2 separate regions of the Homo sapiens genome follow, and region 1 is linked to region 2. Evidence: fine-mapped expression QTL. A gene starts in region 2. The other region holds a variant in brackets. All regions are shown on one strand. Distances are from middle to middle. Region 1 overlaps SELPLG (selectin P ligand). Region 2 holds the start of TMEM119 (transmembrane protein 119).

Region 1 (5,369 bases), 25 kb after region 2:
GGTTTACTGGGGCTGAGTTTCACGGAATATGGGACTTTCAGTGCTAAAATCAAGAAAGTTCCGGGCAAACTGGGACGACTGGTCACCCTATGCTTAAAATCAGGCGTCAGCAAACTGACGGAGCTGAAATGAGCCTGCCGCCCGTTTGTAAATAAAGTTTTATTAGAACACAACCATGCGCATTCATTTATGGACATATTGTCAGTGGCTGCTTTTGTACTACAAGGACAGAGTTGAGTTGTTGCAACAGAGGCTATGGTGTTGCAACAGTTAAGGCCTACAGTATTCACTGTTTGGTCCTTTAAGAAAAAGTTTGGCAGCTTGAACTTTTCCACCATTTGACAGCAAATCAGTGCTTCTGTGAGTTGTACAAAAGGTTGCAGGCTGCATCTAGGATCACCAATAAGCTACTGGCTGTTAATGAGAGACAGGGCCTGAGTGAAAAGGAGAGGTCAGGGTGAGCTTCTGGAGAGTGGGAAAGATTCTGTGCTTGGCCAAGCTTTAATCAGTCAGGCCCCTGAGTCCTCTCCTAGGCCCATCTGTGCACTTCCTTTTAAAATCCAGTTCTGGGCCGGGCGTGGTGGCTCACACCTGTAATCCCAGCACTTTGGGAGGCCAAGGCGGGAGAATCACCTGAGGTCGGGAGTTCAAGACCAGCCTGACCAACATAGAGAAACACCATCTCTACTAAAAATACAAAATTAGCTGGGCGTGGTGGCGCATGCCTGTAATCCCAGCTACTCAGGAGGCTGAGGCAGGAGAATCACTTGAACTCAGGAGGCGGAGGTTGCAGTGAGCCAGATCGCGCCATTGCACTCCAGCCTGGGCAACAAGAGCAAAACTCCATCTCAAAATAAATAAATAAATAAAATCCAGTTCTAACAAGAACTCTGCTAAGTCAGCTTAGCAACAACCCTCCCCCCACCACTCCATATCTGATCACCTCCCATATCTGATCACCTCCTATATCTGATCACGTTCCTCATCTGCCACCATCCCCCCGGTGATGTCTGAGCACCCTGGCCTGCCTCCAGTATGAATCCTGTTAGGTCAGTGTAGAAAATGACCGAGAACCCATCCCCAGCAGTCAGTTTAGCCAGAATTCCCCTTCCCCTGATGTTTCCTCTTGGTAATTTTCCAGCTGCAGATATCCAACCCTGTTCCCTGGCTATCAGCTCCCACTTGCCCCTGCTGTACTCATAGTTGAGCCCAAATGCCCCCACTGCAAAATCCCATAGCTGCAGTCCCTGCAGTGATTGAGAGAGTCCCACTCCCCTTGAACAAAGTCTTCCTTACCATGCTTTAACAAGGGTCATTGAATCTTTTTTTTTTTTTTTGAGACGGAGTCTTACTCTGTCACCCAGGCTGGAGTGCAGTAGCGTGATCTCAGCTCACTGCAACCTCCCTCCGCTTCCCGGGTTCAAGCAATTCTCCTGCCTCAGCCTCCCCAGTAGCTGGGACTACAGGCATGTGCCACCACACCTGACTAATCTTTGTATTTTTAGTAGAGACAGGGTTTCACTATGTTGGCCAGGCTAGTCTTGAACTCCTGACCTCAGGTGATGTACCTGCCTCGGCCTCCCAAAGTGCTGGGATTACAGGCATGAGCCACTGCTCCCAGTCCCATTTTTTTTTTTCTTTAACAGGAGGATAGATTGATGTTTAGAGGGATATTGGTCCGAGGTTTGGGGGGGACCAAACTCTGTGGGCCAAAACTGGGTAATGGAGGAAGTGGAATAAAGTGGTCACTGGTGGGGAAGGGGCAGCCCTCCCTTTGGCCCCCCATAGCCTGAACTTTTCCTGGTCACCCAAGGATGTACAAGACCCCCTGTTGTCCAAGAGGCAAAACTGAAGTCAACCTAACAGCCCATGAAAGAGGCTTCCTGGGGGGCCAGGGGCTGAGGGCAGACAGCTGAGGACCAGCCCCCATCCTGCACTGAGGGATGGAGAATTCCGGGAAGGCTGCCTGAAGGAGACAGCCTTGAAACCTTGAAGGATTCCGCTATCGTTTGTCCATCACATATTTATTGCCTGCACTGGACCTGCAGTTGGGATACTGCAGTGAACAAGACAGAGTCCACCCTGGAAAGTGGCCACAGGGGAAGGCAAGAGGCGATAGCTGGGGGTCACTTGTCACTAGATGGAAGCTCCTTGGTCCACACAGTCCCAAAGAAAGGTCTGCCCTTGGGCCCACGAAACCCATCCCAGCCCTCACAGGCTGAACCTCACCCTGGGTTTTCCCAGAGAGGTGCCCAAGAAGACCCAAGCTGCCCCAAGTCAGAGGAGCAGCAGGAAACAGCCTCAGAAGTCCGTCACTCTTCAGTACTCCTCCCTTAGAATGTCCACTTCCTGTTTGGTGACCATGGCAACCAAAAGACAATGGCAGTGCAGTGCGTGTGGGATGGGGGAGCTCCATCTTCCTTGGGTACATGGGGAGGAGACTCCAGTGACCAGGAGAAGCGGGGAGAGCCATGGGAGATGTTAGAGGGACCCAGAGAAGATGGGGGACAGGAAAAAGGAGAGAATCTGTCTCAAGTAAATGGCCTCCTGCCTTGGACCTCGGCTGAAATGTGGCTGGGCTTCATCCGCGGAGGGAGGAAAGAGGTGGCTCCAC[T/C]TGCCCGTCTGCTTGGCCCCAGGCTGCTCTTGTCCTGTTTGGGTGGCCAGAGTTCCTTCCCTGAAGATCCCCATCCCCAGGGGTCTCCGAGGAAGCCCAGAGCTGTGGAATGGGGTCTGGGCACTCAGGGGTGGCCCAGGAGAGCCCGTGGAGGTGGGGTCTTGCCAAAACAGATGGCAGAGTGAGCTAAGGGAGGAAGCTGTGCAGGGTGAGGTCATCCCCCTCACGGTCCTCCCTGGGCTCTGGCGTCAGGCCCGGGCTCTTGGCCTTGGACAGGCCCCCATTGGCTGTGGCAGAGGGCCCCTCACCCCCATCAGGCAACAGGGATGAGATGCAGACCATCTCGGTGGGGGAGTAATTACGCACGGGGTACATGTGGCCCTTGCGGGAGAGGCGGACCGCCAGCACCACAGTGCACACGAAGAAGATAGTGGCCACCAGCGCCAAGATTAGGATGGCCAGCAGGCACTGCTTCACAGAGATGTGGTCTGGGGCCCCCACTGGGTAGTTGACGGACAAATTGCTGGCTGCCATGGGAATGCCCTTGTGAGTAACAGAGGACACAGAAAAGGGTATGAACAGACCTCTTTTGGTAGTAGGTTCCATGGACAGGGCCTCTGTGGCACTGGGTTCTGTGGACAGGGCCTCCATGGCTGCCAGTGGAGTGGTCTGTGCCTCCGTGGCTGTGGGTTGAGTGGTCTGTGCCTCCGTGGCTTCTGGTGCAGTGGTCTGTGCCTCCATGGCTGTGGTTTGAGTGGTCTGTGCCTCCATGGCTGCTGGTGGAGTGGTCTGTGCTTCCATGGCTGCTGGTGCAGTGGTCTGTGCCTCCATGGCTGCTGGTGCAGTGGTCTGTGCCTCCAGGCCTGTGGGTTGAGTGGTCTGTGCTTCCGTGGCTGCTGGTGGAGTGGTCTGTGCCTCTGTGGCTGCCAGTGGAGTGGTCTGTGCCTCCGTGGCCGTCAGTCGAGTTGTCTGTGCCTCTGTGGCTGCCAGTGGAGTGGTCTGTGCCTCCGTGGGCACTGGTTGAGTGGTCTGTGCCTCCGTGGCTGCTGGTTGAGTGGTCTGTATCTCCATAGCTGCTGAATCCGTGGACAGGTTCCCCATGTTGGCCAGCTCCGTGGTCAGCTCTGTGACTGCCCCTCCTGCATCCAGGCCAGTAGAACGCCTTGCAGCAGGCTCCACAGTGGTAGACTCAGGGGTTCCAGGCCCAGTCAGAGGAGTGGTGTCAGTGCTGTTCCTCAGCATTTCTGGAGGCTCCGTTTCTGGCAGGAAATCATAATCTAGGTACTCATATTCGGTGGCCTGTCTCCGGTCCCGGGCAAGCAGGGGACCCAAGGCTTTCTCGGCTTCATCTGCCCAGGTGTCCCACAGCTGCAAGCTGTTGCCAGGGCCCAGTAGGATCAGCAACAGGAGGAGTTGCAGAGGCATGGCACCTAGGAGGAGACAATGGGCGGAGGGATGTCAAGACAGTTTCACCCTTGGGCTTAGCAAGCACCCTAGACCACCACCCTCTACTGCCACAGCTGGAAGCATGTCTGGTCTGGAGCAGGGACTGGGGACTTAGGCATCCCTGACATGCCTGGGATGGAGAAGATCCTCAGCCAGTAGCAGTTATTATTATTACTCATCAACATGAATAAAGCCATCCAGGAGGGCCCTTTAACTTCTTCTAGATGGTGCATAGAAATTGATTTGCCTCCCTCTCCATTTTGGTTAAGCCACTTTATTTGTGGACAAGACAATCCACTGGGGTGTAGAAAGATTTAGTGCTTCTGCTTCTAGTTCTATTAACTTTTCATGTCACTCCTTTTTTCTTTTTTTTTTTTTTTAGATGGAGTCTTGCTCTGTCACCCAGGCTGGAGTACAGTGGCGCTATCTCAGCTCACTGCAACCTCCACCTCCCGGGTTCAAGTGATTCTCCTGTCTCAGCCTCCTGAGAAGCTGGGATTACAGGCATGCACAACCACACCCAGCTAATTTGTGTATTTTTAGTAGAGACGGGGTTTCACTATGTTGGCCAGGCTGGTCTCAAACTCCTGGCCTCAAGTTATCTGCCCACCTTGGCCTTCCACAGTTCTGGGATTAGGCATGAGCCACTGCGCCCGACCTCATGTCACTCCTTCTTAATTTCAAGTATTACATTATTTATAATCTATCATAAGAGTAAAGTAGTACCTGCACAGAATTCATAAATAGATTAATTGACCACTTACGAAGTCCATAAGCAGAAGAGTTTGTAAACCACAGACCTCCCAGATACCGCTGCTTATTGGACCTTTGAGGCCTCTTGGAGTCTGATTCTACCTGCTGCCCCCTCTCCCTGCCCACTGCCATGCCACCTCTATATGTCTGTCTTCCTCCTTCTCCTATCTTGCTTCCACCCTCCATAGCCCTTGCCAGTCCTCAGAGTCTCAGTTTGTCTCATTCCTTCTCAATGTCTTGTCTTGGTCCCATTTGCTTTGGTGGTGTTCTTGCCTGCACAATGCACAACAGGGATGACGGTGCCTACTTCACAGCCTATTGTGAGGATAAAATGAAGGGATGCATGCAAGACCCTTAGCACTTCGTTTGCATGACAACCTCTCCGCAAAGACTGGCTGATTTAGTTCTTTCAGTCAACCTGCACTATAAGTCTTCAAGGGCCCAGGGCTACTTAATTACACTCTCCATGGCCAGGAGAAAACTCAAATCTCTTCAGAACAGCCCTGCTCTCAGGAAGCTTATAGTCACTGAGTGTGCCTGTGGGTAGGACCACTGT
Region 2 (5,369 bases):
AGCTTCATTATCCCCATTTTACAGATGAGGAAACAGAGGTTCAGAGACAGACAGTGACTTCCCCAAGGACACACAGATGATAAGTAGCTGAGCTGGGATCTGAACCTTCCTCTGTCTGATCCCAGGAGTTTACACGCACATTCACACAAACCACACTCACACTCATACACAGCCATACATACACATGCACACTCACCACACACACAACCATTCATACACGCCACACACTCACACACACATCCCCATACACACCCCACACATAATCATGCACACACGCCACACACACACACACCCATATACACACATGCACAGACTACACAATCATACACACATGCACACACACCACACACAACCATGCACACACATACCACACACACACTCACACACCCATATACACACATGCACATACTACACACACAATCATCTACACACATGCACACACACCCCACACACAAACATGCACACACGCCACACATACCCATATACACCCCACACACAACCACGTACACACATGCCCCACACACACCCCTATACACACATTCACATACTACACACAATCATACACACATGCACACACCACACATATATGCATACACTCCACATACACACAACCATACACATACACCACACACACTCACCTACACAACCACACACACATGCACACACCACACACTCTGAGCCAGGAATGGCTTGTTCCCGCTGGTGGACATCACCTGTCAGATGCTAAATGAGGAAAGGACCCCCTCACCTCTCTGGCACCTGTTAGCAAAGGTTCCTACAGACAACCTTGAGCTTTGGGGTCTGTGACCTGCCAGTCACCTCCCTGCCTCCCACCCCCAGTCAAGCCTAGGAGAGAGCTTTTGTGGCAACAACTACCACTTCTCACTGCAGAGGGCAGCTGGGACCATGGGTGGCTGGAGACCCACTCAAGTTCTGGCTGGGTCAAGAATCCCGGCTCCATCGCATCCAGCTCTGTGGTCTGGCTCCTGTGGGCCTCACTTTCCCCATCCGTAAGTTGGGACAGGGTGACCACAGGTAGCACCTCTCAGAGCTGTTAGGGCCAAATGAGACAACTTTCAGAGAGTGCCTGGTGCGAAGTAGCTGAGCCCCGAGGAAAGATAGGGTCTGGGGTAGCTGAATTCCTTCCCTAGCCGAACTCCAGGTTCAGCCAGCAATTTCCCACCCTGAGTCGACAAATGAGCACCATCGCCGGATGGGAACATGCGCTCACTGTCTGGTCCGGCCGCCACCCAGTGAAAGACCAACCTTTTCACCCCGTTCAGTGAAACCTCTTTAGCTCTGGCCGCCAAGGAATGCAGAACCAAACACACACATGCACACACATACACATACACACACATGCACACATACACCTACACACACATATACATACAACACACACACACACACACACACGAAGTCAGAGGCAGAGGGCAAGAAAGGAGAACACACAAACTGCCACTGGCTCTTTAAGGCTGAGACCCTGACTCTCAGAGTCCCCTGCACCCCACAACCCCTCCTGGCTTCCAGGGAAAGGTGGGGGCAACGTATGGAGGACCCAGCCCCACCTGCAGTCAGCAGAGCCTCAAAAAAGATGGTTGTGTGGCCCTGGACGGCCCCTGCCCTCTCTGGGCCTCAGTTTCCCATCTGTGGAATGAAGCACTGTTCTGGGCAGCTCTGAAGTCATTATTCTGCCTACCTCCCCCCGGACCCTAATTTTTTCAAGGACTCAGAATCTAACAGGCCATTAGGAGCTGGGGTCAGGCCCAACGCCTCTTGCTTCACCTTAGAGGTAACTCAGGTCCAGAGACTGGAAACAGCCTGCCCAGGTCACACAGAAAGTCAGGGGTGAGCCCAGCAGAGCCCTGGACAGAGAAGCCTGTCTTGGTATATCCCAGAGGAGGTCACTTCCCGGCTATGTGTCCTTGGGCTGGGCATGTCACCTCTCTGAGCCTCGGTTTCCATATCTGTACAATGGGGATAAGAGCCACCTCCCTGGACTGCTGTTAGGACAAGATGCGGCCATGCCTGGTGCACAGTGGGTGCCAATTAGCAGGTACCACGTGATTGCCCAGGACTCCCTGCCTGGGGACATGTCAGGCAGGGCTGGCCGTGTGTAAGTGTGGCAAATGCCCTAAGATGGTCCTGAGTCTGTGGAGGAGTGCAGATGCACCCCTGAGGCCTGGGGGCCCCAAGACTTGAAGCTAGGGGACCGGGGGCTGCCCCACCCCCACCCAGAGACTGGTGGCCTTTGGGGGAGGGGCGGCCCACGGAAACCTGGCTTCAATCAGTGGCCTTGTGGGGGAGGGGTGTTCTGGTTGGAGCACTGCACATGCCCCCGACCCCAGGGCCAGCCAAGGACAGGGACCTGGGCCCTGGAGGTCTGGATGGGGAGGGGGGTCCTGGGGGCACAATCCCCCTCCACACACACACACACACACAGAGCAGCATGGACACACAATATAAAGACACACAACACAGGCACACCGACTCACACAGCACTGAGACACCCAACAGCACTCTCATGGCCCATGCACACAATACACAGAGAACACACACGGACACACAACACATATACATACACAACCCCCTGACACACAGCCGATCCCTGCACACAGGACAATACCGTCCACATCACCCTCACACAGATCCTGGAAGCAACAGCCTGGCATCCACTTGCAGAAAAGTGGAAGCAACACACCCCCTACACCAAGGCCCCAGCCGCACACACACAACACTCCGGCCCACCCTGGCCCACCCCAGCACCGCACACGGGACTCAGATTCCACCACACTCATGCACACAACACCAAACACACACTCAAAGCCCACACACACTTAGAGAGGCCCCCCAGAGTGCTCCAACAGTCCCCAGTCCCTAAGCTCCAAGATAGCTCCAGGCTCTCAGGACAGAGGAGGGGACCCCAGGACTCACCAGTTCCTTGGCGTACAGGACTGGGTGCTCCCGCCGAATGGAGCGAGAGTGGGGGGCACCTGGGCTGGAAGAGAGAGTCCGTGCTGGTGCCCGGGGCTGCTCTGGGCTGGCGCCTGCCCGCCCTCCCTCCTCCCGTCCCTCCTCCCGTCCCTCCTCCTTCCTCCCTCCCCGGCTGGGCCGCAGGGCCAGCTTGATTTCATTAAGAGGGTTTGGGGTGGGGACAGGGGGAGGGGAGGGGCTACTCTCGGGCCACACGCAATCCCACCCTTGCTCACACTCTCGCTCTGGGGAAGACCAGATGCGGCACTTCCTCCCTGACCTCGGGTCCCCAGGGCAGGCTGAGACAGACAGACAAGGCTGTCCTGCAGCGCTCCCCCAGACAGTGAGCTGGGGTTCTGCCCACGCTGCTGCCCAATACCCTCCAAAGGGGACAAGCTCAGGGAGGTTCAGAGGCCTCTGGAAGTGGGAAGGAAAATTCCCCGTCCTTGTGTGGCTCAGGCTTCCAGGCTCAGGGTGCAGCGTGGGAGCTGGGATTCGTTTTAGAGACAGGCCTGATGGTGGGTCCGAGCCTGAGACAGGGAGCCCAACTCTGCCCTTCCCTCTCCAGACCTCAGTTTCCCATTTGTAGGGATGGGTGGGAAGCTTTCTGGGCTACCTCTGACTCTGATGTTCTGGGATCTGTGGCCTCACAATGCCCCCAAATGATAGTAGCTTGAATAGGAGTTGGAGCCCCATTTCACAGAGGGGGAAAGTGAGGCAGGGTGAGTTCTAATGGTTCAAGCAGGGTCCTGAGGTGAGTCAGTGGCAGGCCTTGGAACCGGGACGTCTGGCTGACCTGAGGAGTCCTGTGGATTAGCAGCCCCTTGCATTCATTCATTCATTCATTCATTCATGCATTCATTCGGCAAGTGCTCAATGAACACCTGCAGCAGGCCACGCACTGTGCTAAGCAAGTTCCAGAGGTGAATCAGGCACAGCCCAGCCTTGGGGAGCTCACAGACTACCAGGGAGAAGGACACCGAGGTAAATTACTTTTTTGCCAAACAGAAAGGGGTCAGGTCAAGGGCTCCGAGAACCCCAAGACAGAGAGATCAATCCCCCAAGGGAAAGAGGTAGGAAGCCATCCTGGAGGGCATGCCTGTGTATGAGCAGAAGCGGGCAAAGCAGGCCCTGGAAAGGCATTCCGCATGGAAGGACCAGCGTGGGTAAAGGTATGGTGGCTGGGAATGCCACCACGCACAAGCCACCGCAATTAGATTAGGCTGGAGCATGGACCAAAGAGAGGATCATGTAGTAAGGGTCAGAGATGTTGACAGGAGCCAGGCTAAAGTCTCGGAAGGTCGGAGGCAGTACGGAGCCAGTGAGGGTTTGGAACAGGGGAGTGCATGAAGGATGAGTGCGTGCTCTCTGGGTAGGAACCAAGCCTAGATTATCATTGTTCCCTGCAATGGTCCCAGCAGCCCTCGCTCACCCCCAGAAAACTGGGACAGTCATTTGCTTGGGAAATAAAATCAGAGACTTTCCCATCTTCTCTGGAAATCACCCCAAACCCTGCATCTTCGAGGGAACAGGGGACCATCCACCAATACTCGCACAGACACATTCATGCACACACATGTCCCAGGGGCAAGTGGCCACCCACAGACATGTTGTAGCAGCTGTGCCCGCTTTAAGGTGGCCAGGGGTGTTCCAGGCCTACCTGACCTGTCTTAGACCAGACATCGGGTGGTCAGGGGCAGCCAAACCTCCCCCAGGGCCCACCAGCAGGGGAAGAAGACCTTACCCAACATTCTGAGGGCTGCAGTCTGGGGACCTTGGGATGTCGAGGAGCAGGGACACAACCAACCCAAATAGAGCCTGCTCCCTGCACAGGTGGCCCCAGAGGCCCAGCCTGAGGGAAGCTCTCGGAGTCCCCTTCCCCTCGTTCTTTGCTTCTCCCTCCTGGGCAGAGCATCCCCCTGAAGGAGGGGTAGTAAGTGTTGGAGACATTGGCAGGAGCTGGGCTAAAGTATTGGAAGGTCACCTAGGAGGCAGTAGGGAGTCAATGAGGGTTTGGAGGGTTTGTTCTGGGATCTGTGGCCTCACAATGCCCCCAATGATAGTAGCTTGAATAGGCGTTGGAGCCCCATTTCACAGAGGGGGAAAGTGAGGCAGGTGAGTTCTAATGGTTCAAGCAGGGATCTGAGGTGAGTTAGTGGCAGGCCCTGGAACCAGGACATCTGGCTGACCTGAGGAGTCCCGTGGATTAGCAGCCCCTTACATTCATTCATTCATTCATTCATTCATTCATTCATCTAGCGAGAGGCAGACAGACCCACTTCAAATCCTGCCTCCACCATGTCCTGCCCCACATGGAGCCTCTGTTTCCTCCTCTGTAAAATGGAGATGGAGACTCCCTACTACTCGGAAGCTGGCAGGGGAAGGCAGAGGAGCTA

Evidence for each region. PIP is the estimated chance that this variant, and not a neighbour inherited with it, causes the effect.
Region 1: its variant is fine-mapped to the expression of TMEM119 in whole blood (TOPMed, PIP above 0.99).

What each region holds. Positions count from the first base shown.
Region 1 is chr12:108,620,269-108,625,637 of GRCh38, forward strand. It overlaps SELPLG (selectin P ligand), which reads right to left. Exons shown (of 2, transcript NM_003006.4): 2 at 1,627-4,044. The coding sequence starts at 4,039. The coding sequence ends at 2,801. Among named protein-coding and RNA genes, the nearest start is that of SELPLG, 11 kb to the right of the region's middle. The variant T/C (reference allele first, on the strand shown) is at 2,615.
Region 2 is chr12:108,595,036-108,600,404 of GRCh38, forward strand. TMEM119 (transmembrane protein 119) reads right to left here and starts at 3,049. Exons shown (of 2, transcript NM_181724.3): 1 at 2,935-3,049.